Regions from separate parts of the Homo sapiens genome. Here regions 1, 2, 3, 5, 6 and 7 are each linked to region 4. Evidence: fine-mapped QTL for protein levels in blood plasma. Region 4 holds a variant in brackets. A gene starts in each other region. All regions are shown on their reverse strands. Distances are from middle to middle. Region 1 holds the start of TNFSF8 (TNF superfamily member 8). Region 2 holds the start of CSF1R (colony stimulating factor 1 receptor). Region 3 holds the start of KEL (Kell metallo-endopeptidase (Kell blood group)). Region 4 has its middle 13 kb from the start of ASGR1. Region 5 holds the start of HEPACAM2 (HEPACAM family member 2). Region 6 holds the start of LYVE1 (lymphatic vessel endothelial hyaluronan receptor 1). Region 7 holds the start of ICAM2 (intercellular adhesion molecule 2).

The links. PIP is the posterior inclusion probability: the model's chance that the variant is causal. The UK Biobank Pharma Proteomics Project read protein levels with antibody pairs (Olink). The fine-mapping took linkage between variants from a reference panel, not from the people measured, so its PIPs are less certain.
Region 1: TNFSF8 starts here. The variant in region 4 is fine-mapped to the plasma level of the TNFSF8 protein (UK Biobank, PIP above 0.99).
Region 2: CSF1R starts here. The variant in region 4 is fine-mapped to the plasma level of the CSF1R protein (UK Biobank, PIP above 0.99).
Region 3: KEL starts here. The variant in region 4 is fine-mapped to the plasma level of the KEL protein (UK Biobank, PIP above 0.99).
Region 5: HEPACAM2 starts here. The variant in region 4 is fine-mapped to the plasma level of the HEPACAM2 protein (UK Biobank, PIP above 0.99).
Region 6: LYVE1 starts here. The variant in region 4 is fine-mapped to the plasma level of the LYVE1 protein (UK Biobank, PIP above 0.99).
Region 7: it holds the start of ICAM2, and the variant in region 4 is fine-mapped to the plasma level of the ICAM2 protein (UK Biobank, PIP above 0.99).

What each region holds. Positions count from the first base shown.
Region 1 is chr9:114,929,502-114,933,656 of GRCh38, reverse strand. It overlaps TNFSF8 (TNF superfamily member 8), which reads left to right and starts at 3,066. Exons shown (of 4, transcript NM_001244.4): 1 at 3,066-3,548. The coding sequence starts at 3,354. RefSeq lists an enhancer at 3,413-3,972.
Region 2 is chr5:150,084,207-150,088,370 of GRCh38, reverse strand. It overlaps CSF1R (colony stimulating factor 1 receptor), which reads left to right and starts at 1,817. Exons shown (of 21, transcript NM_001288705.3): 1 at 1,817-1,992. The coding sequence starts at 1,944. RefSeq lists an enhancer at 1,730-1,759 and a promoter at 1,512-1,944.
Region 3 is chr7:142,960,549-142,964,712 of GRCh38, reverse strand. KEL (Kell metallo-endopeptidase (Kell blood group)) reads left to right here and starts at 2,350. Exons shown (of 19, transcript NM_000420.3): 1 at 2,350-2,509; 2 at 2,841-2,918; 3 at 3,212-3,353; 4 at 3,609-3,785. The coding sequence starts at 2,507. RefSeq lists a cis regulatory region at 1-268 and a silencer at 2,391-2,586.
Region 4 is chr17:7,164,130-7,168,293 of GRCh38, reverse strand. No RefSeq gene overlaps it. Among named protein-coding and RNA genes, the nearest start is that of ASGR1, 13 kb to the left of the region's middle. The variant C/T (reference allele first, on the strand shown) is at 2,201.
Region 5 is chr7:93,223,339-93,227,499 of GRCh38, reverse strand. It overlaps HEPACAM2 (HEPACAM family member 2), which reads left to right and starts at 1,031. Exons shown (of 10, transcript NM_001039372.4): 1 at 1,031-1,132. The coding sequence starts at 1,054.
Region 6 is chr11:10,568,502-10,572,499 of GRCh38, reverse strand. LYVE1 (lymphatic vessel endothelial hyaluronan receptor 1) reads left to right here and starts at 3,835. Exons shown (of 6, transcript NM_006691.4): 1 at 3,835-3,998. The coding sequence starts at 3,968. The region is part of intron 1 of IRAG1-AS1 (IRAG1 antisense RNA 1); the gene reads right to left.
Region 7 is chr17:64,018,284-64,022,283 of GRCh38, reverse strand. ICAM2 (intercellular adhesion molecule 2) reads left to right here and starts at 1,651. Exons shown (of 5, transcript NM_001099789.2): 1 at 1,651-1,761. RefSeq lists enhancers at 1,212-1,261, 1,482-1,571, 1,317-1,817, 1,912-2,031.

The DNA.
Region 1 (4,155 bases), not on the chromosome of region 4:
GCGGTAGCTCATGCCTGTAATCCCAGCACTTTGGGAGGCCGAGACAGGCAGATTACGAGGTCAGGAGTTCAAGACCAGCCTGGCCAACATGGTGAAACCCTATCTCTACAAAAGATTAAAAAAAAAAAAAAATAGCCAGGCCTAGGGGTGTGTGCCTGTAATCCCAGCAACTCAGGAGGCTGAGGCAGGAGAATCACTTGAACCTAGGAGGCAGAGGTTGCAGTGAGCCGAGATTGCGCCATTACACTCCAACCTGGGTGACAGGGCGAGACTCAGTCAAAAAAAAAAAAAAAAAAAAAAAAGGAGAGAGAATGAGCAGAAGGGACTCTTACACCTGTCTCTCTCCCTGATGGTATGTACTTCCTTTAGTTGTTCCCATTTCTGTGTCCCAGTTTCCTCCTTTTGTGGAATGAAGGATTCAAGCCAAATTTTCTGAAGTTTCTAAATTTTATTCACCTTGGAGAGACCCCATGCCAGAAAAGGGCAAATGAGCAGGTGAAGCTTAGCCCTTCTCTTTGTCCCACCTGTGCTTCAGCCAAAGCAGCCCTGTTTTCTTATGTTTTTATATTCCTTATACAGCTTTGCTTCCAGAAAGGATTTAAAACTTACTCAACAAGAAATTCTATAAAGGCTCCTTCCATCTGCACATCGTACAGCTTGAGTAGAAGACAGAAAGAAGCCAGTTAGCACAGGTCATGGATTTCTATGTTGGCCAGGCTAGATTCTAGAACAGCTGGAAAGCAGAGAGGGGCTTAGAGCAATGGGGGTGGGAAATAGGGAGCCACTGAAGGTTTGTGAGTAGAGGAGTGTCACAGCAAAAGAATGAATTGAGCCCACAAACTACTGTACTAGGAACTGATCCGAAAATCTCAACTGCTCAGAAAGTTGAGTAAAAACAAAGGGTGATTTTTCCCCCTTGTCAGCCTTCCCTCCCAGGACATTGTATTGTATGCAAAACGGGTAACTGTAAGACAAACATTTTTTTCCACTGCCCTTCTCAGCCCCACAGGCCTTCAGGAAGACCCGAACTTCAAGCAAAGCCTTTTTATTTTTCAACACCCACAGCTTCCATTCAACAATCAGAAGTTTTCCACTTTGATCAAAGAGGCTGAACAAGAGGGCCAAGGGAGCAGCTGGTTCTCAGCAACTCTGGGCAGACCACAGAGCCCTTGCTACCCACTCACTGTCCGTGCCCACCAGAGGACACAGCCTTCTCCCCAAATCAGCCAGGTACATGCCCCAGAAAACACTGGCTTGCCTCGTTCCCACCTTAATTACCGGACCAAACGAACGTGAACACACTGTTTTCAAAACCAAACTCAATTGGGATCACGGGGGCCTCGGTTTCCTTGATTGTAAAATGGGTATATCGCCCCCCACTCTATTTAGCCCAAGAAAACAATTTATCTCTTGATGTCTCTTTCGTCTCCAGGATCTATGCTTTTACAGACTCACTGGGAGGAAATATCCAGACCAAATCCTAAAGCCTGATCTAATTTGGGAGATGCTCAGAAGTTTTGGTTCTATGCAAGAACAGCAGTGGTAATAATCCAAGCTTGGCTTTAGACACAGGACGTTTCCTTAGGGGCATCTGGGATCTCTGCTGGCTCAAAGTGATGCGCTGCAGACAAAAAGTGAGCAGAAAGGAAAGGAGGTGCTATGCAGAATGAGCTTCTTCCACGGTGATACCAAATGGAGCTTTCAAAGGCCCACATCTGGAGGCAGCAGCTATGCAGTGATTAACATTTTAAACGGTATTTTGAAATGGAGATCATTAGTAACCACAGATGTGATCTGACTCTGTCCCCCAGGTAATCTGTCTATTGTATCTAAATTCCAGACTTAGCCCAGTAGACAGCTTGGGATGTTTAACAGGAATTGTCCAACACCATCCCCAAATCTATTTTTATTCATGGAGTACTCTGACATCATCTCGCTTGGTCTTCCTGATGACTGTAATGCAGATTGGGAACAGAGAAAGCCATAAAGACTTGTATGATGGCCCAAGGCTAAGAAGGGAAAGGGCTGAGACCACACTTCAGGTTTTAGCTTTCAGGTGCAGTGAAGATTGAATGACTTAGCACGAGCTTTCAGCCAGGCAGGCTGCAAAGTGCACCCAAGTTCTTTCAGTGATCGACACTTGCGACTTAGGTTGAGATAGTTTTCATCCTCCCTGAGCCTCAGTTTTCCCATCTGTAAAAAATAAACATTGCCTGCCTCGGAGGGTGGAGGTGGAAGTGGAATGAAGCCACATGTAACTCCTAGCGCTGTGCCTGAGACAGTAGAGGTTCAATTATAGTAGTCACATACACACACAACACATACATACACAAGACACAACACACCACACACAACACATACATACACACCACACACAACACTTACATACGCACCACACTCGGCATGCATTGCAGATCACAAATGCACACCACACACACACTGCATACATATACCATAGAGAACACACAACACCTACACATACCCCCATACCACAAATACACACACACTACATAGTACACCACGCAGAACACACACAGCCCCCATATTCCACACCACACCATCTCACTGCCAATTCCTTCCCCTCTTCATGAGTTTTACGGCAGGTCCAGGTTCATCTGCCAGTTTAACAGATCCCAAAACTTCTGCAGGAGTGTTTGTTCAAAAGATTGATATTTCCAGATTCCTGCTTTCTGACAGTATCTTTGAACCCCAAATTTCATACTGCCATGAGCCAGTCCCCCTTTGGAGAAATATCTCCATTTGTGTGCCCTTTTTCCCCCAGGGAACCTGCAGCATGTCCCTTTTTCAGCAGTAGCCTATCAAACCGAACCCTTTGGAGTTATTACACTGCAGTCCGAGGGATCCGGCCTCCCTGAGACCCAGCAAGGACTCATTATCTGGGGAGGTCTTCTGAGCCACAGGCCTCGCTGAAAGAAGGTGCAGCTTCTTGAACAGGAAGGCGTTTTGTGGCAGAGTCTAAACGAAACAGAAGTTGCTTTGTGTGTGCGCACGCATGCACACACACACACACACACACACACATACACACACACAGTCGGGGAACCGTCATTTTCCTACGCGCCCTCTGACATCAGCCACCTTCTCTGTAGCTAGTTTCTCTGCACACAACTTAATCCCTGGCAATGAAAAATGAACCTCTCCCCCACCCTTGCTGCCGCCTCTCGCCTCACGCCCCCAGAGAAGAGTTTCTCCACCAGGCAGCAGGTGAAGGTTTTTTTCCAAGTCACATGATTCAGGATTCAGGGGGAGAATCCTTCTTGGAACAGAGATGGGCCCAGAACTGAATCAGATGAAGAGAGATAAGGTGTGATGTGGGGAAGACTATATAAAGAATGGACCCAGGGCTGCAGCAAGCACTCAACGGAATGGCCCCTCCTGGAGACACAGCCATGCATGTGCCGGCGGGCTCCGTGGCCAGCCACCTGGGGACCACGAGCCGCAGCTATTTCTATTTGACCACAGCCACTCTGGCTCTGTGCCTTGTCTTCACGGTGGCCACTATTATGGTGTTGGTCGTTCAGAGGACGGTAAGTGGACTCCTCTTCCTCCCTTTCCTTTTCTTGTTGTTTTCCCGAGAGAAAGAGCCCTGGGAACAAATGATATTCGTTTGTTGGTTAAGAGCACAAAATAAAATTAAATAAATAAACTCTCTCTCTCTATATATATATATATACTATAGTATATACTGTATAACGTAATACACTTATGTTACATAATATATATTATATTATACAGTATATATTATATATATATATATATATGAGAAAGGGAGAAAAGAAAGAGGAACTTAACTCTCTAAAATAATTTGGCTTGTTGAGAAAAATATTGTTAGACCATCATCTTAAAACTTTGCAGATCTGTCTGAGCAAAACAGTGGAGGGGAGCTATTGGCCTTTTAAAGTTAAGATTTAAATCTTAATGAGCCAGAGACCCATATCAAGGAAGGAAGCAATAGAGAAACCTGATAACACATTTGCACAAGTTGTTATCATGTCTTCAAGGACTTCAGACTGGATTCTGAGGTTCTATATCCTAAGTCTGAGTGTCCTGGAGGTTTCTGAGGCCTCACCCATTGCCAAGAGTTTTGTTTTTGCTTTTGTTTTATACAAGGAGCTAAGTTTCAGAGGCCAAGGT
Region 2 (4,164 bases), not on the chromosome of region 4:
TATTAATTCTTCTTTAAATGTTTGGGAGAATTCACCAGTGAAGCCATCTGGTCCTGGGCTTTGCTTTGTCGGGAGGTTTTTGATTACTGATTAAATTTCTTTTCTTGTTATAGGTTTATTTGGATTTTCTTTTTCTTCTTGAGTCAGCTTTGATTGACATTCATGATTGCTAAAGGTTCAAAACACTTTTCTGAAAAAGAAAGTACATATATACACTCATAAATATACATACAAACACACACATACACACCACACACACACCTGAGTACACGGGAATGATCATTTTCCTGGATCAATGTTATATCAGGATTTTTCAATTTCAAGAAGGAACTTTAGGCTGGGTATAGTGGCTCATACCTATAATCCCAGTACTTTGGGAAGCCAAGGTATGCGAATCACTTGAGCTCAGGGGTTTGAGACCAGCCTGGACAACATGGTGAAACCCCATGTCTACCAAAAATACAGAAATTTGCTAGGAATGGTGGCACATGCCCCTGTAGTCCCAACTACTCAGGAGGATGAGGTAGGAGGATGGCTTGAGTCCGGGAGGTGGAGGTTGCAGTGAGCCGAGATCACACTACTGCACTCCAGCCTGGGTGACAGAACCAAACCCTGTCTCAGAAAAAAAAAAAGAAAAAAAGAAGAAGAAATGACCATGTTCTTTAGAGATAAGAAGTAAAATACTAAGCGAATCAACTAAAAGAGGTAAAAGCAATTGCCTCCAGGAAAAGAGGGAGCAAAGGAATGCTATATATTTTAAGAATTATGCAGAACAATTAGATTCTTTGTAAAAATAAATAAACAATGTAAGTAACGCACAAAAGATAGTTTTATAACCAGACTGCTGGGATCCAAATCCTATCTCCACCATTTGGTAGCTGTTTGACTATGGACAAGCTTAAGGCATTTGATCTCTCTGAGCTTTAGTTTTCCCATCTGTGAAATGAGAATGACAATAGTACTTACCTACATAAAGTTTTGCAGTACTAAAGGAGACAGTGAATGTAAAAGGTTTGGCTAGTAAATGTCCTGTAAAAGGAAGCTTATTGCCAATATTATCAGGCTCTCCCAGACCAACCTGTATACAGGAAGAAAACAAACTCCGTTTCTCCTATAGTCTCACAACACAAAATACTTCTGACCCCAGATGTAGAGGATGGGGCATATTTCCCCATACACCAAGCAATCAACCAATTGTTCAGATTCTGCAGCAGACACGAATCTGGTGCCCTCCGATTCAATTTGAACACTATATTTACCTAGAGATAACGTCAGATCTCACAGCTTGAAGGCTTGAGCCAGGAGTTTGAGGCTGCAGTGAGCTATGATCGAGCCACAGAGCTCCAGCCTGGGCAACAGAGTGAAACTGCGTCTCTAAAATAATAATAATAAATTTTTAAAAGATATGCATTACTTTGGAGATTCCAAGGATTTTAGGAGTTGTAAGCCAGGACATCAGGGTAAAGAAAAAATATATATGTCACAATATCATGCAACCTAACTTCTCTTTGGGATCTGCCAGAGCCACCTGATCACTCTGAAGACCCTCATTTGTGCTACTGACTAACGGTCTGGCTGCTCTTGGACATGTCTCTTCTCCCAAGACCCCTTGAAGATGGCTTTAGAAGGGCCCCAAACTTAGCTAGCTCCCCCCAAGCTCAGGCTGGCCCTGCCCCAGACTGCGACCCCTCCCTCTTGGGTTCAAGGCTTTGTTTTCTTCTTAAAGACCCAAGATTTCCAAACTCTGTGGTTGCCTTGCCTAGCTAAAAGGGGAAGAAGAGGATCAGCCCAAGGAGGAGGAAGAGGAAAACAAGACAAACAGCCAGTGCAGAGGAGAGGAACGTGTGTCCAGTGTCCCGATCCCTGCGGAGCTAGTAGCTGAGAGCTCTGTGCCCTGGGCACCTTGCAGCCCTGCACCTGCCTGCCACTTCCCCACCGAGGCCATGGGCCCAGGAGTTCTGCTGCTCCTGCTGGTGGCCACAGCTTGGCATGGTAAGAGCAGAACGGGGGGTGGGGGACTTTGTTGGGGTGTGATGGAGAAGACCCCTGTGAAAGGATTCAGTCCTTGCCCCTCACTGGGTGTCCTCAGGCTGTTTTAGTCTCCCCAACACTGGACTGCAGGCTTGTGGGTATCTGCTTTGGAGAGGTAGTGGGGTGAAAAGAGATGGGTGTGGTGGAACTGGTCCACCTGGTGCTGTGGATCTGTCCCAGCTCTGCCAGCGACTCACTGTGTGTCCTGAGCAAGCCTCTGATACTCTTGAGGCTTCAGTGTCCACTTCTATTCAATTGCAGGTGTTGGGGGCAGGGGGACAGTGATAGACTAGACCAGAGCAGTGCTTTTCATACTTTCCTGTGCATACAAGTTACCTGAGGATTTTGTTACAATGCAGATTCAGACTCAGTCGGTCTCAGGTGCGACCTGAGATTCTGTATATCCAACACACTCCTGGGAGATGTGAGATGCCGGCACTGCTGGTCCAGACCTACACTGAGTTGGGAGGACCTGGAGAGCTCCTGATGGCTCTGGCAGCTCTGCCAGCCTGTGATTCGATGATTCTATGCAAGATCTGATTTGGAAGGGCCTGATAGGGGTGGTGGTTCTTCCTTGGGTGGCTTGTGTAAGGGGTCAGAGGGGAGAGACAAGAGGTTGGCCTCTCTGGCCCAGGGCTCAGGAGAGGGGAATTCGGGGTGAAATAGGTATAGGGCTAGAGGAGGGATTGGGAAGAGGCCAGTGAGGGTCTCCTGGACCAGAGCCCTCCCAGACACAGGCTGCCAAGTCTCAGGAGGTCCCCAGGCTGTAGCAGTTCTGCAGAATTTCCATCTGGGAGGGAACATGACTAGAGGTGAGGGGCTGCTGTGCTTGGCTTGTTGGCCCAACAAACACATTTCTATTGCCTGCTTATTCAAAGGGACCTTGGGGGAGGATGGGGATTGAAGGGGAGAAAGGACAGCCTCATACTGGCCTCTTCACAGAAGGACCCTAAGGCCGTGGCGCTTCTGGTCCCTGATGAGGAGGAGATGGCCCACTGACCATCCTTCTCTGGCCCAGGCAATCACACTGAGCTTGAGTATTTGGGTTTTTTTTTTTTTTTTCCTGAGACAGAGTCTCTCTCTGTCACCAGGCTGGAGTACAGTGGCACAATCTCGGCTCACTGCAACCTCCACCTCCCGGGTTCAAGTGTTTCTCCTGTCTCAGCCTCCCAAGCTGGGATTACAGGCATACACCATCATGACTGGCTAATTTTTGTATTTTTAGTAGAGATGGGATTTCACCATGTTGGCCAAGCTGGTCTCGAACTCCTGACCTCAGGTGATCCACCTGCCTTGGCCTCCCAAAGTGTTGGGATTACTGGTGTGAGTCACGGCGCCCGGCCTGGACTTCTTATTTTGCAATGTAACTTACATGCAGTAGAAAGCACAGGTTCTTAAGTTCAATGAGGTCTGACAAATGCACACACAGTGTACCCGCCACCCCCTTCATCTCAGAGAGTCCCACAGGTTTGATTTCACTGCCTTGTCCTATCCTTACACCCACAACCTGCCTGTGGGGCAAAAACGGAAAAGTATCTGAGCCAGGTCTCAATTTAATTTTATTTTTTTTATTGAGATGGAGTCTTGTGGCCAGGCATGGTGGCTCACACCTGTAATCCCAGCACTCTGGGAGGCCGAGGCGGGTGGATCACAAGATCAGGAGTTTCAGACCAGCCTCGCCAATATGGTGAAGCCCCCTCTCTACTAAAAAATACAAAAATTAGCCGGGTGTGGTGGTGGGTTCCTGTAGTTCCAGCTACTCAGGAGGCTGAGGTGGGAGAATCACTTGAACCCGGGAGGCAGAGGTTGCAGTGAGCTGAGATCATGCCACTGCACTCCAGCCTAGGCGACAGAGCAAGACTCCATCTCCTTCCTTTCTTTCTTCCTTCCTTCCTTCCTTCCTTCCTTCCTTCCTTCCTTCCTTCCTTCCTTCCTTCCTTCCTTCCTTCTTTCTTTCTTTCTTTCTTTCTTTCTTTCTTTCTTTCTTTCTTTCTTTTTTCTATCTTTTTGAGACCGAGTCTTGCTCTGTTGCCCAGGCTGGAGTGCAATGGCATGGATCTCGGCTCACTGCAACCTCCGCCTCCGGGGTTCAAGCAATTCTGCCACTCCTGAGTAGCTGTGATTACTGGTGCC
Region 3 (4,164 bases), not on the chromosome of region 4:
CCTCTTCTCGGGGCTTAGATCTGAGTGAAGGCTGCTGCACTCCCGTGACTGGGTATGGCTGTGCTGGTGATGACTCACCATGGAGTAGGATATGGGTGATAAGAAGAAGTCCTGCTCCTGAGACAGCTCCCAGGATGGAGGTTGCTTGGCCTTCAGGAGGAGGCTGAGTAGGAATGGTGGACCTGGCAGCTGTGCTGCCCTATCCCTGTGGCTGGCTCAGCTTCTCTGACAGGGAGAGAACCTAAGTCCAGGCTGTGGTGGCTGTCCATAGGCAAATGTCACAGAGCACACTCCATCTTCAACTTTCTCTTATCAAATCTAAGTGGTCTCCATTATCATCTTCCTAGGGAAACATCAGCTCAGGGGCTTTGATTGATAGAAAAGGAGTGAGGAAGGGAATATGTGTGAAGGAAGCTAAAAGCCCATGGGGAGAGTATTGGACTTTCTGTGGAAGGGAAGTTTGAAGAGGAGGCACCATCAGGGTGTACCCACACAGACCAAACACCTCTAGAATCCTGAGTCAGCTTTTTCCCCTCACTCTGATTCCTACTCCCCCCTTAATCAAAATTCCATTGTTCGCTGGCATCACTATTCCCCTAGTCATGCAGAAATGCAACTTGGAGCTCCTCTGTGGCTCTATCATAAACCCCTCCTCCATTCAATCCATTGCCATGACTTTATTCCATACAATTTTTCTTTCTACGCACTTCCCTCCCCTCTGCCATCCCCTTGGGCCGGGCCCTCCCTTCATCACTCCTGCAACACCAAACTAACCACTCTGTTTCTTGTCTTTTATCCAATCAGTCCAGATCCCCAATACCACACCGGCGTTTCTTAGATATTATTGTATCTTGCCACACCTTTCCTCAAAAGCCTTATTTTTCCCAATGCTTTCTTTTCTAATGTATGAAGTTCTGACTTTTCTTTATGACTTTCATGATACCCGACCAGCTGGCCCCAGGGGGCACAATGGCTTTACTCCACTTCTCCACACCCACCCTCATCCTGGCAAGTGCACCATGGCCCTAGCACAGTGCTGATGGAATCTGGAAATATCGCCAGGGGATCATTTGCAAGACTAACCTAATAAATTACATTATTTTTTTCCTGGGATGAGGAAACAAGGACAGAGTTGAAACACCTTCCCCCAGAAATGTGCTTGCCTCTCTCAGACCACAGGTAAGGGCTTAATATGATGTGAGAAAGAGGATTTCTGGCTTGGAATGCAATTCATTTCTATTAACATTTAGAAAGCATCTTGGGTGGGCAGGAATGAAAACCAGACACTGTACATGCTATGACATAGTTTTCAATCACTAAGGAGATGAAGAGGCAAGCTATCAGTGTAACAGAAAGCAGAATGAAAGAAAGAGGGGCTCAGTAAAGCCTTATTCTTTTGTAGAAGGCATGAGATCCTATGAGGTAGGCATAGGCAAGTATTACCCTCATTTTCCAGATGACAAAACTTGCTTACCTGCCTCAGAGTTTAAGTGGCTTGTTTATTGTCACAGAGCTAATAATTAGCAGATTAGGGTCTCCTAGCTGGGTGATCTTTTGAATGCATGACTTTGCCAGCAGCCAGCAGAGCTATGAAACACCGAGAGAAACAATTAAGCATGCTTGGGAACAGTGTGAATGGGCATGGAGCTGGGAGGCCTCCTGGGAAAGGTGGCATTTGACCTGGGAATTGATGAATCCCAGAAAAGCCAATCAGAGAGGTGTGAAAACAAAATTAAAATGGAGACTGGGCCTGAAAAATTCCCAGGCAAACAAAGCCAAAGACCTTAAAAATAGCCATATTCTTGCTAAAACTACAAACATAAATTAAACTTAACTTGGGTCAATTTCTGATAAATGCTTACAACAAATAAAACTTAACCCCAGCCAATGATAAGCAGCCAACTAACATATGATTATGTGACTAGGGACTTTCCAAAAAGTTACCTAAAAAATGCAATTATGTAACTGCAAACTAAGCAAATAATGTTTCATTTTGCTTCTATAACTTCCCAATAAATGCTTGCCTCTGACATTTTGTCATCGCAACACTAAACCTTTGTCGGTCTGGTGCTCCCCAATTCATGAATTGCTTCTTACTTAAATAAACTCTTTAAAATTTTACTGTGCCTCATATTTTTTTTAATACAGAAGAAATGAGAGAAGGAAGAATATTTTAGAAATAAAGGAACTTCATGGGCAGAGTCACAGTGCAAGACAAAAGGAGCAGACCAAGGGCAAGATTGCTTGGGGAGTGAAGACTCCCTCCCTCTTCTCCCCTGAGAAGCTGAGATAAAGGGGGAGGAGAAGCCTGGGTGCCCCCCACTGATAAGCAGGCTCCACCCAGAGGCCAGTCCTGTGTGTCTGGGGACAAGGCGAAAGAGCAGCAGAAGTGCCCCTTCTCCAGGATCAAGGAACTGGGGCGGGGGGTGTTTCCTGGACCCCAGTCCTCCGAATCAGCTCCTAGAGTGGAACCAGGAAGGATTCTGGAGCCACAGAAGATAGACAGATGGTAAGTCCCCTTTTGGAGTCAGAGGCTTAGCGGGGAGGGGTGAGGGTGGCTGTGTGCAAAAGTCCTGCCCCCACTGGAGGGGAGGGAATGTAAGGCTTACAGAGTAGAAAGGTGGGGAGAGAGGGAGGTAATGGGAGAGGGATCGAGAAATGGCACATTCAGGGGACAGGTTCGTTCTGAAGCCCATCTGGGAACACTGCTCCGAGATAAAAATATGTGTGTGGGGGCAGGGCAGGCAGCGAGGGTATCAAAATGGCCTGATAAAACTCTCTTCAATGCACCATTTCCTGAACCAGCTTCTCTCTCCTCCTTCTCCCTCCACTCACTTCAGGAAGGTGGGGACCAAAGTGAGGAAGAGCCGAGGGAACGCAGCCAGGCAGGTGGAATGGGAACTCTCTGGAGCCAAGAGGTAAGTGGCCTCCTCTCCTGGGTCTGGAATACACTGATGTTGTCACTCTCGGCTCTAAAATCCCACAAACACTCATCTACTAACTGTCTGCTTCATCCTCACCCAAAACAGTTGACATTCCTTGTTTTCTCATCTCCCAGGAGTTAAAGTAGGGCTGGGTTTAGGAAGAATTGGGATAATTATTTCTGTATAAAGGGACTGTAGCACCAACAGATTCATTCTCTCTCCTCTTCTTCCCATCCCTGTCTCTCAACCCCCATCTTGTATCTTTCACCTCTTGGTTCCTCCCACAGAGCACTCCAGAAGAGAGGCTGCCCGTGGAAGGGAGCAGGCCATGGGCAGTGGCCAGGCGGGTGCTGACAGCTATCCTGATTTTGGGCCTGCTCCTTTGTTTTTCTGTGCTTTTGTTCTACAACTTCCAGAACTGTGGCCCTCGTAAGCAAGATCCCAGACCCCCTAACCTAGTCAGCCCTCCCCCAGCCCTGGGGCCCAGGCCCAGTCCCTGCTCCTGGGGCTTCTGCCCACCCTGACCCTTGGGGTCCCCATGGTTCTTCTTCCTCCCTGCATCCTAACCATTTCTTTTTCATCAGCTCCCCACTTAGTTACTCACCTGATGTTCTTTGCCTAGCCCCTTGGGGGAGCCCTTGTCTTTTTGCCTCTTCTTTCCCAGCTCTGAGCTTTTCCCCACAGGCCCCTGTGAGACATCTGTGTGTTTGGATCTCCGGGATCATTACCTGGCCTCTGGGAACACAAGTGTGGCCCCCTGCACCGACTTCTTCAGCTTTGCCTGTGGAAGGGCCAAAGAGACCAATAATTCTTTTCAGGAGCTTGCCACAAAGAACAAAAACCGACTTCGGAGAATACTGGGTGAGGAAAGCAGGGTGGAAGATGCTCTGTGCAAGTGGGTGACTCTGTGCCTAAAATGACCATGACTGCTCCAAACCCTGTGTAGTTGTGGAACAACTGATTTGCACCATCCCAGGTGGGATTATACGGGTGGATGATTGGAGATGATGGGGGAGTAAAAGAGGCAGGATGGCGGGAGCTGCCTGGGTTTGCTCATCTCTCACTGTTTCCTGTTGCCTTGCCTTGGGTACCCTTCTTCCGTTTCTCTTGGTCCCTTTCTGCATTTTTTTCTTTATCTAATTTCCATCTTCTTTGCTTCTCCATGTATCCATAATTACTCCATTCTCTCCAACTTGTCCCTTTTAGCAAGCTCCATCTTTGTTGCTTCCTCCAAATGTTC
Region 4 (4,164 bases):
AACAAAAAACAAAAAATAAAAAATAAAAAAGGTAACATGTTCAAGTAGTATAGATGCCAAGAATTCAAAGATGATTTAACATAAGAAAAATCTGTTAATATAATAGATTTAGAGAGTACAGAAAAATAGATTAAATGTGTACAAAAGAAAACAATTACACAATGCAGAAAAAACACTCAGCAAAAGTTCAGCTCTGATTTATGATGAAATCTTTCTGGACTCTAGCTGTTTCTACGTTGTTGCTCCATCGTTTCAATCTGTGGCTTCCATCACATGTTCCAAGATGTCTGCCCCTCCTGTTATGACACATTCCGGACAAGAGAAAGGGGAAAAGGGAAGGAGAATGGCGCATTCTCTCTCTGTCTATGCAGACACTTCCATCACTTCACTTTATATCTCTTTGATCAGAATTAGTCCCAGGGCCACAGATAGCTGCAAATGGGGCTGAGAAATGAACTTTATTCCATGAGGCCACATTCTTGCTAAAAACACAGGATTCTATTTTGTAGAGAAGGAGTCAGTAAACTTTGGCCCTCACCTGCTTCTGTAAATAAAGCTTTCTTTTTCTATTTTTTTTTTTTTTTCTGAGACGGAGTCTCTCTCCGTTGCCCAGGTTGAAGTGCAATGGCACAATCTCGGCTCACTGTAACCTCTACCTCTCAGGTTCAAGCAGTTCTCGTGCCTCAGCCTCCCAAGTAGCTGGGATTACAGACGTGCACCACTATGCCCGGCTAATGTTTTGTATTTTTTCTTTTTTTTTTTTTTTTAGTACAGACGGGGTTTCACCATGTTCGCCAGACTGTTCTCGAACTCCTGGCCTCAGGTGATCTGCCCATCTCAGCCTCCCAAAGTGTTGGGATTACAGGTGTGAGCCACCACACCTGGCCAGTTTTTTTTTTTTTTTTTTTTTTTTTTTTTTGCAACAAGGTCTGGCTCTGTCGCCCAGGCTGGAGTGCAGCGGCGTGATCTTGACTCACTGCAGCCTCTGGATCTTGACTCACTGCAGCCTCTGCCTTCCAGGCTCAAGTGATCCTCTTGCCTCAGCCTCCCAAGTAGCTGGGATTACAGGCGCAAGCCACCATACCCTGCTAATTTTTGTATTTTTTTGTAGAGACGGGGTTTCACCATGTTGCTCAGGCTGGTCTTGAACTCCTGTGCTCAAGTGATCTACCCGCCTTCGCCTCCAAAGTGCTGGGTTACAGGAATGAGCCACGGATCCCGGCCTGTAAATAAAGTTTTATCGGAACACAGCCATGCCTGTTTGTTTACATGTCATTTATGACCACAGCAACAGCAGAATTGAGTAGTTATGATAAAGACTGTATGACCTGGTAAGCCTAAAATACTTGCTATCTGGCCCTTTATAGGAGATGTTTCTGGACCTCTGGTGTAGCAAGAAGGGGATAATTGGTATTAGGGGTAATTAGAAGCCTCCGTTATAGTGCTATTATTGCTGTTCAGCATCATCCTGGGCATGGTAGCCAAACTGCACAAGACAGAAAAAGACATTAAAAGTTGTAAGAATTGGAAAGGAAGAGATAAAACAATATGCTCACCTATACAGAAAATCAACACCATCAACAAACAAACAAACAATTCGACCTAATAAGAGGCTTCGGCAGGTGTATTAGTCTATCACCACAATAACACATGAAGAACATACAAGAAGAAACTTAAATTCTTTCCAAATTAACATATACATTCAACGCAATAAAAATAAAATTTCAATTGATTTTCTTTTTGAGATGGATTCTCCCTCTGTCACCCAGGTGGGAGTACAATGGTGTAATCTCACCTCACTGCAACCTCCGCCTCCAGGTTCAAGCGATTCTCCTGCCTCAGCCTCTCAAGTAGCTGGGAGTACAGGTGCCCGCCACCACGTCCAGCTAATTTTTGTATTTTTAGTAGAGATGGGGTTTCACCGTGTTGGCCAGACTGGTCTTGAACTCCTGACCTCAAGTGATCCACCTGCCTCAAACTCCCAAAGTGCTGGGATTAGAGGAGTGAGCCACTGCGCCCGACCTCAATTGGATTTTTAAAAGCAATGCAACAACTTTAAAAAAAATATATGTGGCAAGATAAAAGTCAATATGGGAAAAAAAGGAGAAATTGGAGGAAGGGGGAACTAGCCTTATTAGACTTTAAAATATATTACAAAGCCATAGTAATAAAAATAGCACAGTAATGATACAAGAATAGA[C/T]GGATAAACCAATGTTATAGAATAAAGAGCCGAGAGACAGAACTGTGCCTACATGGGAACTTAATATACAATAAAGGTAACATCTCAAATTGGTAGAAGAAAGACATTATTGGGAAAACTGGCTCACTCTATGAAGATAAGTAAAACTGGATTCATACCTAACATCACAGGCAAAGGTGGATGTTGGATAGATTGAAGACCTAAACATATAACATAAAATTACAGAACTAGTAGGAAAAAAGAAAGAAAGAAAAATCTATACTACTAAGAGTATAGAAGGGTTTCTTCTTCTTCTTTTTTTTTTTTTTGAGACAGAGTCTTGCTCTGTCGTCAGGCTGGAGAGCAGTGGCGTGATCTTGGCTCACTGCAACCTCTGCCTCCCAGGTTCAAGCAATTCCCCTTCTTAGCCTCCTGAGTAGCTGGGAATACAGGCATGCGCCACCACGCCCAGCTAATTTTTCGAATTTTAGTAGAGACGGGGTTTCACCCTGTTGGCCAGGCTGGTCTCCATCTCCTGACCTCATGATCCACCCACCTTGGCCTCCCAAAGTGCTGGGATTACAGGTGTGAGCCATCGCGCCCGGCTGAAGAGCTTGTTAAATAAGGCCTCCGAAGCACATTCCAAAAAGCCAAAAAAAATTTGTGAAATTGCATGAAAATGATAAATTTCAGTTCAACAGCAATGTATCAGGTAGGCTCCCAGCAAGCAACAGATGGCACACCCAAAAATGGGTAAGTGCAAGATTTCATAATATAGGGACTCTCTGCAAAGGTGTGAACAGGCTTAGGGAAGCCACAAGATGGAGCAAGAACCTAGGCATCCCAGAGTGGGGAGCTGTTACCACCTCCAGGACCGCAGGGAGAGGGCCTCCCAACAGGAGCTGTGATACTCAGTTGCAGGGGGCAGCTAACCCACAGCCACTCTACAGGGAGGGGCCGGGGAGTTAATATCCTCACTTCCCTCTCTTCCTGGAAGAGGGCTGGAAGCCAGATGGCAAGGGAGCGATTTGATGCAGTCATACAGCTCAGCCTCCCAGGCCACAGAACAACATGGAGAAGGATAGAGTGTGGATCTGGAAGGACAAATGGAAGACATTCAACACAGAAGGAGACCAAGATGAAGAAATACACAGGAAACCTATTGGAAAAGTGGCATCAGGTATAAACAAGCAGTTCACAGATGAGGAAGCCTGGGGTTCTAATGTGCATATGAAGACATGTTTACAATCACTAGTGACTAACTAGAGAAATCAAACACGAGTGAGCCATCTGTTTACACCCATCCAATTGACAAACATTAAGAGGAAGTCAATTGCTGCCAAGGTTGTGGGAGAAGCTGCTGATGGGAGGATAAATTGGAATAGCCATTCTGCAAGATATTTACTGGAATTAAGAATACATAGTATCAGGACGGGCACGATGGCTCACGCCTGTAATCCCAGCACTTTGGGAGGCCGAGGCGGGTGAATCATGAGGTCAGGAGTTCGAGACCAGCCTGACCAACATGATGAAATCCTGTCTCTACTAAAAATACCAAAATAAGCCGGGCATGGTGGCGTGCGCCTGTAATCCCAGCTACTCAGGAGGCTGAGGCAGTAGAATCGCTTGAATTCGGGAGGTGGAGGTTGCAGTGAGCCGAGATCGAGCCATTGCACTCCAGCCTGGGCAACAGAGGGAGACTTTGTCTAAAAAAAAAAAAAAATGCATATTATCGGCCGGGCATGGTGGCTCATGCCTGTAATCCCAGCACTTTGGGAGGCCGAGGTGGGTGGATCACTTCAGGTCAAGAGTTCTAGACCAGCCTGGTCAACACAGTGAAACCCCGTCTCTACTAAAAATACAACAGTAACAACAAAAATTAGCTGGACTTGGGGGCGGGCACCTGTAATCCTTGCCACTTGGGAGGCTGAGACAGGAGAATCGCTTGAACCCAGGAAGCAGAGATTGCAGTGAGCCAAGATTGT
Region 5 (4,161 bases), not on the chromosome of region 4:
TTTACTTTAATTATGCTTGAGGTATAGTCTTCCTTCCCCTCTTATCATTGAACTTCTTCAGTGGGCCTTTACTGTTAAAACTGATGCATGCAAGGAATTTTCCTTGATTTGATGATTTGATGCAGATTTGGATATATCCTTAACATTTTATATAACAAGGCTAGAACCAGAGCCTTCTTGCAAATAGGGGTTAACTAATAACTTAGTAAATTAAGCGGACATGCTTAGACTATCTGCTGCCATGACAATGGAGAGACCAGGTTGAAAACCTGTAACCTGGACACTGCAGTAGAGGTAAGATCTTTTCTAGATCATTGGTTCACTTCCTCTATGCATCAGCTGTGAAAATGTGGCCTCAGATACTATCTCCTGGCATGCACTTTTCATTATAATTATGCATGGTCCATGCCTCAGTCCCAGTTGGAAACACACCTGTGATTTGCTTTTAAAAATAAGATGAATTCAAAGATTAAATGAAATCAGTCATTGTAATAGGAAACACTGCATAGAAAAAATACGTTTTAAATATATTCTGGATCTCTCTTTTGATTCATTGGTAGAATTTTTACATGTTAGTGACTTCATGAAGATTTATAACTGTTTAGCAGATACATGAGCTACTTCAATTTTCATATAATTTTTTTTAATTTTAAAATAATAATGGCATAGTTCTGCATGATAGAAAACCAGCTTTTGTTTTTAAGGAAATCTCACAATATTCTTTCATTATGAAAACATGCCATTTTTCAGTAAAGTCACGCAAAAGGATGTTTTCCTTCATGTGATTTTTTAATAACTAAGTATAATTTATGAAATATATAGACAATTACTGGTAGTTGCTAAGAAACTCTTCTGAAAGCCATAAGCCTGTATTCTTGCTAAGCACATAACAGGTGTTCCCACTCCCTGTGTCCTTTGTATACACATTCATTCTGTATTCAAATCACAGAAGCAAGAGGCAAGATAGGGTCTGTTACCTCACTGCTAATTTCCCTAGCAAATAAACCAGCAGCTGCTGGTCCAAGTTACCACTGAGAACAGGGCACTGCATGCATGGGACAGGATGCTTTCATGGAGCCCTTCGGTGACACACTTGGGGTCTTTCAGTGCAAAATATACCTCCTTCTCTTCGGTAAGGCCCTGTGTGAATTGTGTTTTAGCTGTTTGTTAGGTTTTTTTTTTTTAATTGTGGACATAAGGTAAATATTTGCTTTAGGCTGTAGATGCATTCAGATAATTGAAGAGCAGGTCAGAACCTTTTAACAATAACACACTGTTACAGCAAAGAAGCAGGAACATTTAAGAGAAATGAGTTTCAATAAATAGATTGTTATTGTTTTCTTGGAACAACAATTATTGTCATAGCACTCATTAAGATAATTCAGATATTTTTAAAAGATAATGAATTTCTTCTTTTAGAGTTTACATATAGGTTCAATAGTCTTTAATGCATTTATTTCAGCAAATATTCTAATAGGCCATGAAATTGTGACCACTTAGAGTGAAACTACAAATAATTTACGAAAATTGTTTTCTTTTTAATTAAAGATATTGTTGCAAACTGTTTACTGCTTCGTTTTAAGTTATCTGTCTCATCTTATGAAATATGGAAGAAAGGTAAGATTCCAAACTAACAAAAAAATTTCCTACACAAAAGGGAGAACGTATTTGAAAAGATTGTTACTCCAAAATGCCTTTAGCTTTTCTCTTTGCCCAATGGCTAGTCCTATTAAGAATTTTTTTCTACCTTAATATTTTCCCTCATTCTCCTCTTTATCTTTTGAGTTTAAAGGAGTCTCTTTCCAGCATTCCAACTGCTGTCTGTCAACATTATTTTCACCAGATGTTCTCATTTCCATTCTTCCTATTTATCAGTTTTAAAAGTCAAATCAATTTCTTGTTTTGTTTATATTCAACAGATAGGAGTTCAATTAAGGCTACATTTTTTAAAAATTAAGAACAGCTTAGCAAAATAAGCAATTTAACTTTTAGGCTTCTTCAGCTATTTAGAGCTTTACTTTCACTCCTATATTTTGTTAAAGTTTGCATTGTAAATGTTATTATTCAAATTCATACCTACTGTTGTACCTATCTCACACATTTGAAATGTACAGTTTGTAAATTTTTTTAAGTCTTTGAGTTTCCCAGAGTTGTGATTGTTCCAGTTATCACAGTATTTATGTTATCAAATTTAAGCCTATAATAGATTTTTGTTTTCTAAAATTTTTTGAAAAAGTAAATAATTATTATAACTGTCACTACCTTTGTGCATTTGTCTTCCTTTTGAAAGTATCCTGGGTCATCATCCCACTTATTTTTATATTTAAAACAGTAGGACTACTATCATTTTATAAGTGTTGTTTTTGAAACTGGCGTTAAGAAGAACTTAGAGACAATTTAGTTAAGGAATTCAACTAAAATAAAACAAATGTACATTAGGAAAATAGCATGTTCATAAATAGCTAAAGCAGTTTTTATACCTTAAGACCTTCTCTCTTCTGCAAATTTGCTTTTCTCCATAGGCAGTGTGTTGTAAAGACCACAGATGACTTGGCAATCTTTGCTTTTAGGAATATTGAAGTTTTGTTTGCTTCTTCTTTTTAAAAAATTTTTAAAAATTTGAAGCCTAAAATGTACAGTTTGTACAGTTTATTCAAAACACATCATAATTTCTATTTTCTCTAAAGATGCAAGATTTTATTTTCAGTCAACAATACTTGTGTTATGCTTGTTAATACCACACATGATAACAGGGAAGTAAATGCCAGCTATTTTGAGCTACAGCAGAGGTCACTTTGTGAAATCTGATGTTTATATTCAATACAATGAAACCGGTCTAGGGAGTCCTTTGTTGCTGGAATATAGATAAATTCTACAGTAGGACTTCAAGTGTACCTTAACACTGGATACTTTTTTATAGTGCTATTGTCATACAATGTAAGAGGGTCTGTAAAGGAGGGATCATTGCTGCAATTTTGTATGTCAGATTATGATTAGTATTATAAATGTTTCTCCAGATTTGTGTAATGCCTTATATGCAAAAAGTCAAGATTTTTTTAACAGAACTATAATTTATAAGAGTTTTTGTTTGTTATACTCAGAAAGTAATAGTGAATATAATAATAAAATCGAATTTAAATTTCCGTTTAAGTCCAAATATTTGGACTACTAAAAATAAATTTAAATTTCATCAATTTTTATATTATTTATTATTTTTGTTTTTGTATTTTTTCAAATAGAGACAGAGGTCTCGCTGTGTTGCCCAAGCTGGTCTTAAACTCCTGGGCTCAAGCAATCTGCCACCTCAGTCCCCTAAAGTGCCTGGGATTACAGGCATTAGCCACCACAACCAACCTTTTTATATTATTTATTTTCTTGAAGTTTATCTGTTCATGCAGAGGATGATTTTCTAAAATCAATAGGTTTAGTCCTTTGGGTTTTCTCATACAACTAGAAAAGAGCACTTGAAAATTTCTCAAAATGAAGCTAAGTTTTCTCACATTAGTAAACTACTGTGTTTGACAGCATGAATTCATCACATCTGTAGTGGGTGACACATCAATGATAAGAGAGTATGTGTTCCTAGAATGTGGAGGAAGCATTCAATTATCTGTTTATTCCCAAATTTCACTACAAGCAAAGATTGTATCATATTGATAGGTTCATGTCCAATGAAGAGATTTTACGTGGCTGAGATAAGATACTGTATAAAGAAAATTTCATTCCCTGCTGACATTCTTATAACTTGCTACCTATAATTTATCTGATAAAAAATTGTATAGGCAATCTCTAAGCAAATAGTTACTGTAACAGCTGTGCTATTTCTCACTGTCACACAAACATTTGAAAAAGCATACATATTTGAAAAAAACTTTTCATTTAATAAGAAAGCACTGAACCTATTCAGAGATATTGATGGCAATATATTATTTAAGGTATTATTACATGATGCAGTCTAAAATAGACCCCAAAACTAATTTTCCCCTAAATAATGATCACAAACGCTATATTAAATATCTTTTTCTACTAATGTAGTGTTATTTTTTCTCAGAGCTTCAATATTTGTATTGTATTTAATATTTCATTAAATAAAATTTTCCTCCTATAATTTTAGTCATGGACTCTCTAACCAGTCTTTTCATATTTAAGATTCAACATTCT
Region 6 (3,998 bases), not on the chromosome of region 4:
AATGCATACATTTGAACCAGAAATTGTGTACTTTAATAGCAAAATTCCAAAATATGAGGTTCTAGCTTACCAGTTACATGGCAAGAAACAAAACTGCTAGAAAGATGGTAAGATAGTAAAGTCTTACCTGTGATAACTTGGAAAGCATCTCATGGTTAGCCTATTTATAAGTGGTGGAAAGAATCAGCGTTGGGGTATGGAAACTTCTCTTGGCTGCCTTTGGCAAGGTATGGCAGGAGAAATAATTGGCTATGTGGGAGCAAAAATGAAAAAGAATATAGAGTATTCAGAAATGTGAAAGATTGAAGGGTGAGAAAACCTGACCACTTCTAAATCCCAGACAGACTAAAAAGAGCTTTGAGTGGGAGCCAATAAAATTTCTCAGTTGAACAGATCGACTCAGCCTTATGGCAAAGGCTAGATTAAGGATGTGGCCCTTTGTGAGTTCAAATGAACTTAGTGTATTCACCACTAAATTTGAGGGGTATGGTGCTGAGAAACAGGAAATACTTCTTGAGAATTATGACTGGGAAAGGATTTGGGGTATGATTATTGGCACATGGAAGCAGAAATCTAACTTTGTGAGGGAATTTACAAAGAAACACAAGCCAGGACTAAAAACCCCTTTCATTGTTCAGGTGAGGAAACAGCTTTGAGGAGGAAAGAAAATATATCAGAGAGATACCTGCACCCTCATGTTTATTGCAGCAGTATTCACAATCGCCAAGATATGGTATTAAAATGTGTCCAGCAACAGATGAGTGGATAAAGAAAACATGGTGTACATACACAACGGAATAGTATTCAGCCGTAAAAAATGAAATCCTGGCATTCACAGCAACATAGATGGAAATGGAGGTCATTATGTGAAGTAAAATAAGCCATGAACAGAAAGTTAACACCACATGTTCTAATTCATGGAAGCTAACAAAAGATCTCATGGAAGTAAAAAACAGAATAGAGGATACTAGTGGCTGGAAAGGGAAGAGAGGAGGAAAAGACAGATTTGTTAAAGGACATAAAATTAGGAGGAACAAGTTATAGTGTTTTATGGCACTATAGGATGACTATAGATAACAATAACATATTTTCAAATAGCTGGAAGAGAAGATATTGAACACCCCCAACACAAAGGATAAATGTTTCAGATGATGGATATGCTAATTAGCCTGATCTGATCACTACATCTTGTTTGTATGGAAACATCAAAATGTACATGTGTATAATTATGTATTGATTAAAAATAAAATTTTTTTAAAATTAAGAAAACTTTTGGGATCTTAGCTTATGCCGGCAGGAAGCAGACTGCAAAAGCTGTGCTATTCCCAAGGAAGGCATACTCCCTAATATCCACTTCAAATGTGGACAAGCAAGATTATATGCAAATGAATCTCCCAGAGGGATGCAAAGGGCCGCAGAAAACAGTGGATGTGGAAGTTTCTCTCAGAAAGCAGATCAGAATCAAATCAAGGTTAAGTGACTGTGGAAGGCAGAATTTCTAGAATAGCCCTCCAAAGATGTCCCACCCTAATCCCTGGAGCCTTTGAATAGGAGCTCCAGGGGTATGGAGCTTTGTTGTGTTACATTAGATGGTACAGTTGACCTTAAGATAGGGAGGTTATCCAGGTGGGCCCATGAGCCCTTAAAAGCAGACAGCTCGCCGGGCGCGGTGGCTCACGCCTGTAATCCCAGCATTTGGGAGGCTGAGGCGGGCGGATCATGAGGTCAGGAGATCGAGACCATCCTGGCTAACACAGTGAAACCCTGCCTCTACCAAAAATACAAAAAATTAGCTGGGTGTGGTGGCGGGCGCCTGTAGTCCCAGATACTCGGGAGGCTGAGGCAAGGAATGGCATGAACCCAGGAGGCAGAGCTTGCAGTGAGCTGAGATCACGCCACTGCACTCCAGCCTGGGCAACAGAGTGAGACTCTGTCTCAAAAAAAAAAAAAAAAAAAAAAAAAGTAGAGAGCTCTGCTTGAGCCCAGGAGGTAGATGCTGCAGTGAGTCACGATGGCGCCACTGCGCTCCAGCCAACAGAGCAAGACCGTGTCTCTTAAAAGAGCAGAGAACTTTCTCTGGCTAACTGTAGAAGTGAAAGAGAGACTAGAAGTATGAGAAGGACTCAGTGTGTCATTGCTGCTTTGAAAATGGAAGGGCTCTAGGAGAAGAGAATGGTCCCTGGCTGACACCCTGCAAGGAAACAGGGACCTCATTCCCACAACCTCAAAGAAATGAATTCTGCCAACAACCCAAATGTGCTTCGAAGTGGATTCTTCCCCAGAGCCTCTGGGTAAGAGCCCAGCCCAGCCAGCACCTTAATGTCAGTTTCGTGAGACCCAGGGCAGAGGACCCAACTGAGCCCACTCAGACCTCTGACATATAGAAGCTGTTAAATGATAAATGAGTACTGTTTAAGCCGCTAAGTCTATGGTAATTTGTTGGACAGCAATAGAAAGCTGGCACAGCGACCTTTCTAAGGCCTCTTCATTGGTATTCCAGAAATTCTATGGCTGGTGATCACTGTGACTCTCATTCTCCTCCTTGACACAAAGCCTTGCCTTCCCTGATTCATTCTTCCCCTTCCTGTCTTCCTTCGTTCTTTTTGCAATAAGTGAACAAATGCTAGAAAGCTAGCTCTCTTTCGGGCATGGTGTTAGGCTTTAAGAATAATCATGAAGAGGCCAGGACTCTGCCTGTCTGCCTCCCTGGTGCTGTGATGATAGAGTCATGCATGTTTCTGAGAAACTGGGGCTTGTGCTCACCCAGATCATGAGGTCGGTATTGGAGATGTGTAAGGGCTGTTACCCTGGTCTTTTAGAAGTTCCCTGCATTTGTTTAGAGCAGATTCTCTTTTTGTTATTGATATTTTTCACACAAATATCTAACTTTATGACCAGTACCACTTATATAAAAAAGAATTCGTTATCCATATACTTTTCCTATAAAAGACATTCATTTTGGAAAAATCTCATAAACCTTTGCCCAAGACATTGCTTACAAGCCAGAACTCCATAATTACCATGAAGCAAAAACCACTGAAAATCCGGCTGGAAAAACATAGAATACACTCTGCTGGTACACAGCACAGATAAACCTCATGTTCATCGAACAACAAAGGTGGAGTCTGACTTGAATTCTGGCCTACCAGAATATGAAAGGAGTTATTAAGAGAAAGTTATTTCATAAAAGACCCCTGTGGTGATTACTATTGTAAAGTTAAAAATCCTTGGGGAAAGTGTAAAATGTTTAATTTTGTAAATTGCCCTCCTACTTGTGTTATGTAAATGTGAATGTTTATATGTGCCTGGTTTCTTTGAAAAAGGAATCACCTGTAGTGGTGTAGAGATTTCAAATGTGTAAAAGGAGACTCAAAGGAAGGCAGAAGGTTCTAGACTCAGTATTTAAGTGGACATTTACTTTCATGAGCTTCAGCATCATACCCTGCAGATCACAAGGCCGAACAGCTGGGTGGAAAAATCACTGATTGCGGGAGGAAAAGAGGCACAACCTATGCTCAGTCTCCTTTAGGGACAGAGATGTTTCTAGGAGTACATAAACGATGGACTCCACAGGCAGTAACAGTGAATGGTGTGAGAACTGAGCTGCTGGGGGAGGAGGAACAGCAGGGAATATGGGAATTGGGAGAACCTTTAGCAGTTCACACTGTGCTATCTGCCTTCCTCATTTGTGTGTTTTCTGAGTCAGCATTAGCTAAATTTTCCAGAAGGCCATCCACAAAGTACAGCCTGGGCGTTCAAGGGACGTCATTCATTTCCCCCAGTGACCTTGACAAGTCAGAAGCTTGAAAGCAGGGAAATCCGGATGTCTCGGTTATGAAGTGGAGCAGTGAGTGTGAGCCTCAACATAGTTCCAGAACTCTCCATCCGGACTAGTTATTGAGCATCTGCCTCTCATATCACCAGTGGCCATCTGAGGTGTTTCCCTGGCTCTGAAGGGGTAGGCACGATGGCCAGGTGCTTCAGCCTGGTGTTGCTTC
Region 7 (4,000 bases), 57 Mb before region 4:
TGAAAGCAGAGTCTTGAGCAGGTATTTGTACAACCCTGTTTGTAGCAGCACTATTCACAATAGCCAAAGGTGGAAGCAACACAGGTGTCCATCAGTATATGAATGCATGAACAGAATGCGGCACACACGCACAATAGGATATTGCTCAGCCTTCAAAAGGAAGGCAGTTCTGGCCAAGCGTGGTGGTTCATGCCTGTAATACCAGCACTTTGGGAGGCTGAGGTGGGCGGATCATTTGAGGTCAGGAGTTCGAGACCAGCCTGGCCGACATGATGAAACCCCATCTCTACTAAAAATACAAAAATTAGCCAGTCGGCACGTGCCTGTAATCCCAGCTACTCAAGAGGCTGAGGCAAGGCCAGGCACGGTGGCTCATGCCTGTAATCCCAACACTTTGGGAGGCCAAGGCGGGCGGATTGCCTGAGCTCAAGAGTTTGAGACCAGCCTAGGCAACATGGTGAAACCCCATCTCTGCTAAAATACAAAAGAAATTAACCAGGCGTGGTGGCGTGCACCTGTAGTCCCAGCTACTCAGGAGGCTGAGGCAGGAGAATTGCTTGAACTCGGGAGGCGGAGGTTGCAGTGAGCCGAGATCACACCACTGCACTCCAGCACTCCAGCCTGGGCGACAGAGTGAGGCTCCATCTCTACAAAACAAACAAACAAACAAACAACAACAACAACAACAAAAACACTGAGGCAAGAGAATCGTTTGAACCTGGGAGGCAGAGGTTACAGTGAGCCAAGATCACACCACTGCACTCCAGCCTGGGCAACAGAGCGAAACTCCATCTCAAAAAAAAAAAAAGAAAGAAAAGAGAAAGAGAGAGCTCCAGAGATGGATGGTGGTGATGGTTGCAGAACAATGTGAATGTACTTAGTGCCCCAAACTGTACACTTAAACATAATTAAAATGGGCCTAGCACGGTGGCTCATTCCCAGCATTTGGGAGGCTGAGGTGGGAGGATTGCTTGAGCTCAAGAGTTTGAGACCAGGCTGGGCAACATAAGCAACACTCTGTCTCTACAAAAACTACAGAAATTAGCCAAGCCTGGTGGCTGCACACTTGTAGTCCCAGTCACTTGGGAAGTTGAGGAGGGAGGGTCACTTGAGCTCAGGGGTCAGAGGTTGCCACGAACTGTGATTGTGCCACTGCACTCCAGCCTAGGTGACAAAAGCAAGACTCTGTCTTAAAAACAACACAACAAAAAATTGGCTGGACGCAGTGGCTCTTGCCTGTAATCCTAGCACTTTAGGAGGCCGAGGAAGGCAGTTCACTTGAGGTCAGGAGTTCGAGACCAGCCTGGCCAACATGGTGAAACCCTGTCTCTACTAAAAATACAAAAATTAGCCAGGCGTGGTGGCAGGTGCCTGTGGTCCCGGTTACTCTGCGGGCTGAGGCACAAGAATCACGTGAACTCGGGAGGCAGAGGTTGCAGTGAGCCGAGATCACACCACTGCACTCCAGCCTGGGTGACTGAGACTCAGTCTAAAAAAAAAAAAAAAATTGAAATGGTAAATTCTGTTGTGTACGTTTTACCACAATTAAAAAAAAAAAAAGCGGAATGGGAGTGGAGCTAAATGAGGCTAGTTTAGGGTGGGAACCGGGGCACAGGAAGCACGTCACTTCTGGTGGGGAGTGGGGGGAGGGAGAAGACTGAATAAGCCGTGAACTGGGCAGCTGTGACACGCGCACCTTGTCACCTTGTCACCAATTTCCTGCCCGGGATCCCAGAGCTACCCTTCTTGGAGCCCACAGGGGTAAGGTTGAGCTTCTCACTTTCCCTCCAATGAAGCGTGGCAGCATGGGAAGGATTTTGGCAGTGTCGAGGTCTGAGTTTTAGTCCGTTCCCCTCTCTGGGTCTCAGTTTCTCGCTGGTAAGTGCAGGGGTTGGGGAATCCCCAGCGCTCCTGTGGCTCGACATTCTGCACTCTGTGAAGCTCCTGCCCTGCCCTGCTGGGTCTCTGAGCTCACGCACTTGCCCTGGCGCTCCTTTCCTGATTTGTCTCCCCTCTCTCCTTCCTCTGCTCTGCCATCTCGGTGGCCGATGTAGAAATGTGGGGCTGCCTCCTTATTTAGGGGCCCACGTGGGCTGTGATCTGGACCATCTGAGCTGATGCAGAGGGGAAGGGACAGTCCCTGTTCTCCCCGGCAGGCGTGGTGGGTTCATAATGAATCTCAGTCACTCACTTCCTACCTGCCTCGGTTCGAGGGGGTCTTTCCTAACCCATGGCTCACATTCCCATGAAGCCTCTTCTTTCTAGGCACGTAGAAAGGCCCTTTTTCCCTTTTATTATTTTTGTAAAATTTACTAGGTAACGCATAAAAAGCTTATGTAACATACATATACATCATACTGCACAGTAATATACCAAACACACCTGAAGCTGCCACTCAGCACAAGGATGGAGTATCACCAAACTGCAAACACCACTTATCTGCTTTTTTTTTTTTTTTTTTTTTTTGAGACAGAGTTTTCATTCTTGTCGCCCAGGCTGGAGTGCAGTGGCACAATCTTGGCTCACCACAACCTTCGCCTGCTGGGTTCAAGCGATTCTCTTGTCTCAGCCTCCCAAGTAGCTGGGACTACAGGTGCGCATGCCACCATGCCCAGCTAATTTTTGTGTTTTTGGTAGCGACAGGGTTTCACTATGTTGGCCAGGAGAGTCTCGATCTCTTGACCTCATGATCCGCCCACCTCGGCCTCCCAAAATGCTGGGATTACAGGCGTGAGCCACCACACCTGGCCACCACTTGTCCACTTTTATGCTACTTGCCTCCCACCCACAGGTAGCCACCCTCTGGAATTTTGTGTTTATTGTTCTCTTATTTTTAAGTGCTTTATTACATATGCATCTCTATTTATTTATTTATTTATTTATTTACTGAGATGGGGTCACACTATATTTCCCAGGCTGGAGTGCAGTGGCTATTCACAGGCATGATCATAGCACACTACAACCTCGAACTCCTGGGATCCAGTGATCTTCCCACCTCAGCCTCCTGATTAGTTGGGACTACAGTCTTGAACTGCTGCACCTGGCTATGCCTATTTATTTTTATTTTATGAAACAGTTATATAGCGTTACTGTGTGCTAGGCACTGTTCTAAATGCTTTAAAATATTTACTTATTTTATTTGTTTAATCTGCACAAAAACCCTATGAGGAAGATACTATTATTGATTCCTTTTTGCAGATGAGGAAATTGAGGCACAGAAAGATTAAGTGATTTGCTCAAGGTCACACAGATAGTGAGAAGTAAGGCCGGGAGCAGTGGCTCATGCCTGTAATCCCAGCACTTTGGGAGGCCAAGGCAGGAGGATCATGAGGTCAAGAGATAGAGACGGTCCTGGCCAACAAGATGAAACCCCATCTCTACTAAAAATACAAAAATTAGCTGGGTGTGGTGGCGTACGCCTGTAGTTTCAGCTATTCGGGAGACTGAGGCAGGAGAATAGCTCGAACCCGGGAGGTGGAGGTTGCAGTAAGCCAAGATCGCGCCACTGCACTCCAGCCTGGGCGACACAACGAGACCCCGTCTCAAAAAAAAAAAAAAAAAAAAAAAAAAGAGAAGTAAACACAAAGACATGTCTGGTTCTTAGTGTGACAGCGTTTCTAGGGCATACATCTAAGAATGGAACTGTGAGTTACAGGGTATAAGAATATTCCGTTTACAAGATAATGCCTAATTATCTCTGAGAGCACCAATATACACTCTCATCAGCAGTTAGAAGGGTGCCTATTAACCTACGGCCTCTCCAACAATTGGTCTTGTCATATTTCTTAACTTTTGCCAACCTAATACATATAAAATAGTATCGGTCCCATTGTAATTTTAATTTTAATTTCCCTGGCTACTCGAGCTAAATAATCTTTTCACTTGTTTAGACATGTTTCCTTTTCTTTGAAATGTTTCTTTGTGTCTTTTTTTTTTTTTTTTTTTTTTTTGAGATAGAGTCTCACTCTGTCACCCAGGCTGGAATGCAGTGTCGCGATCT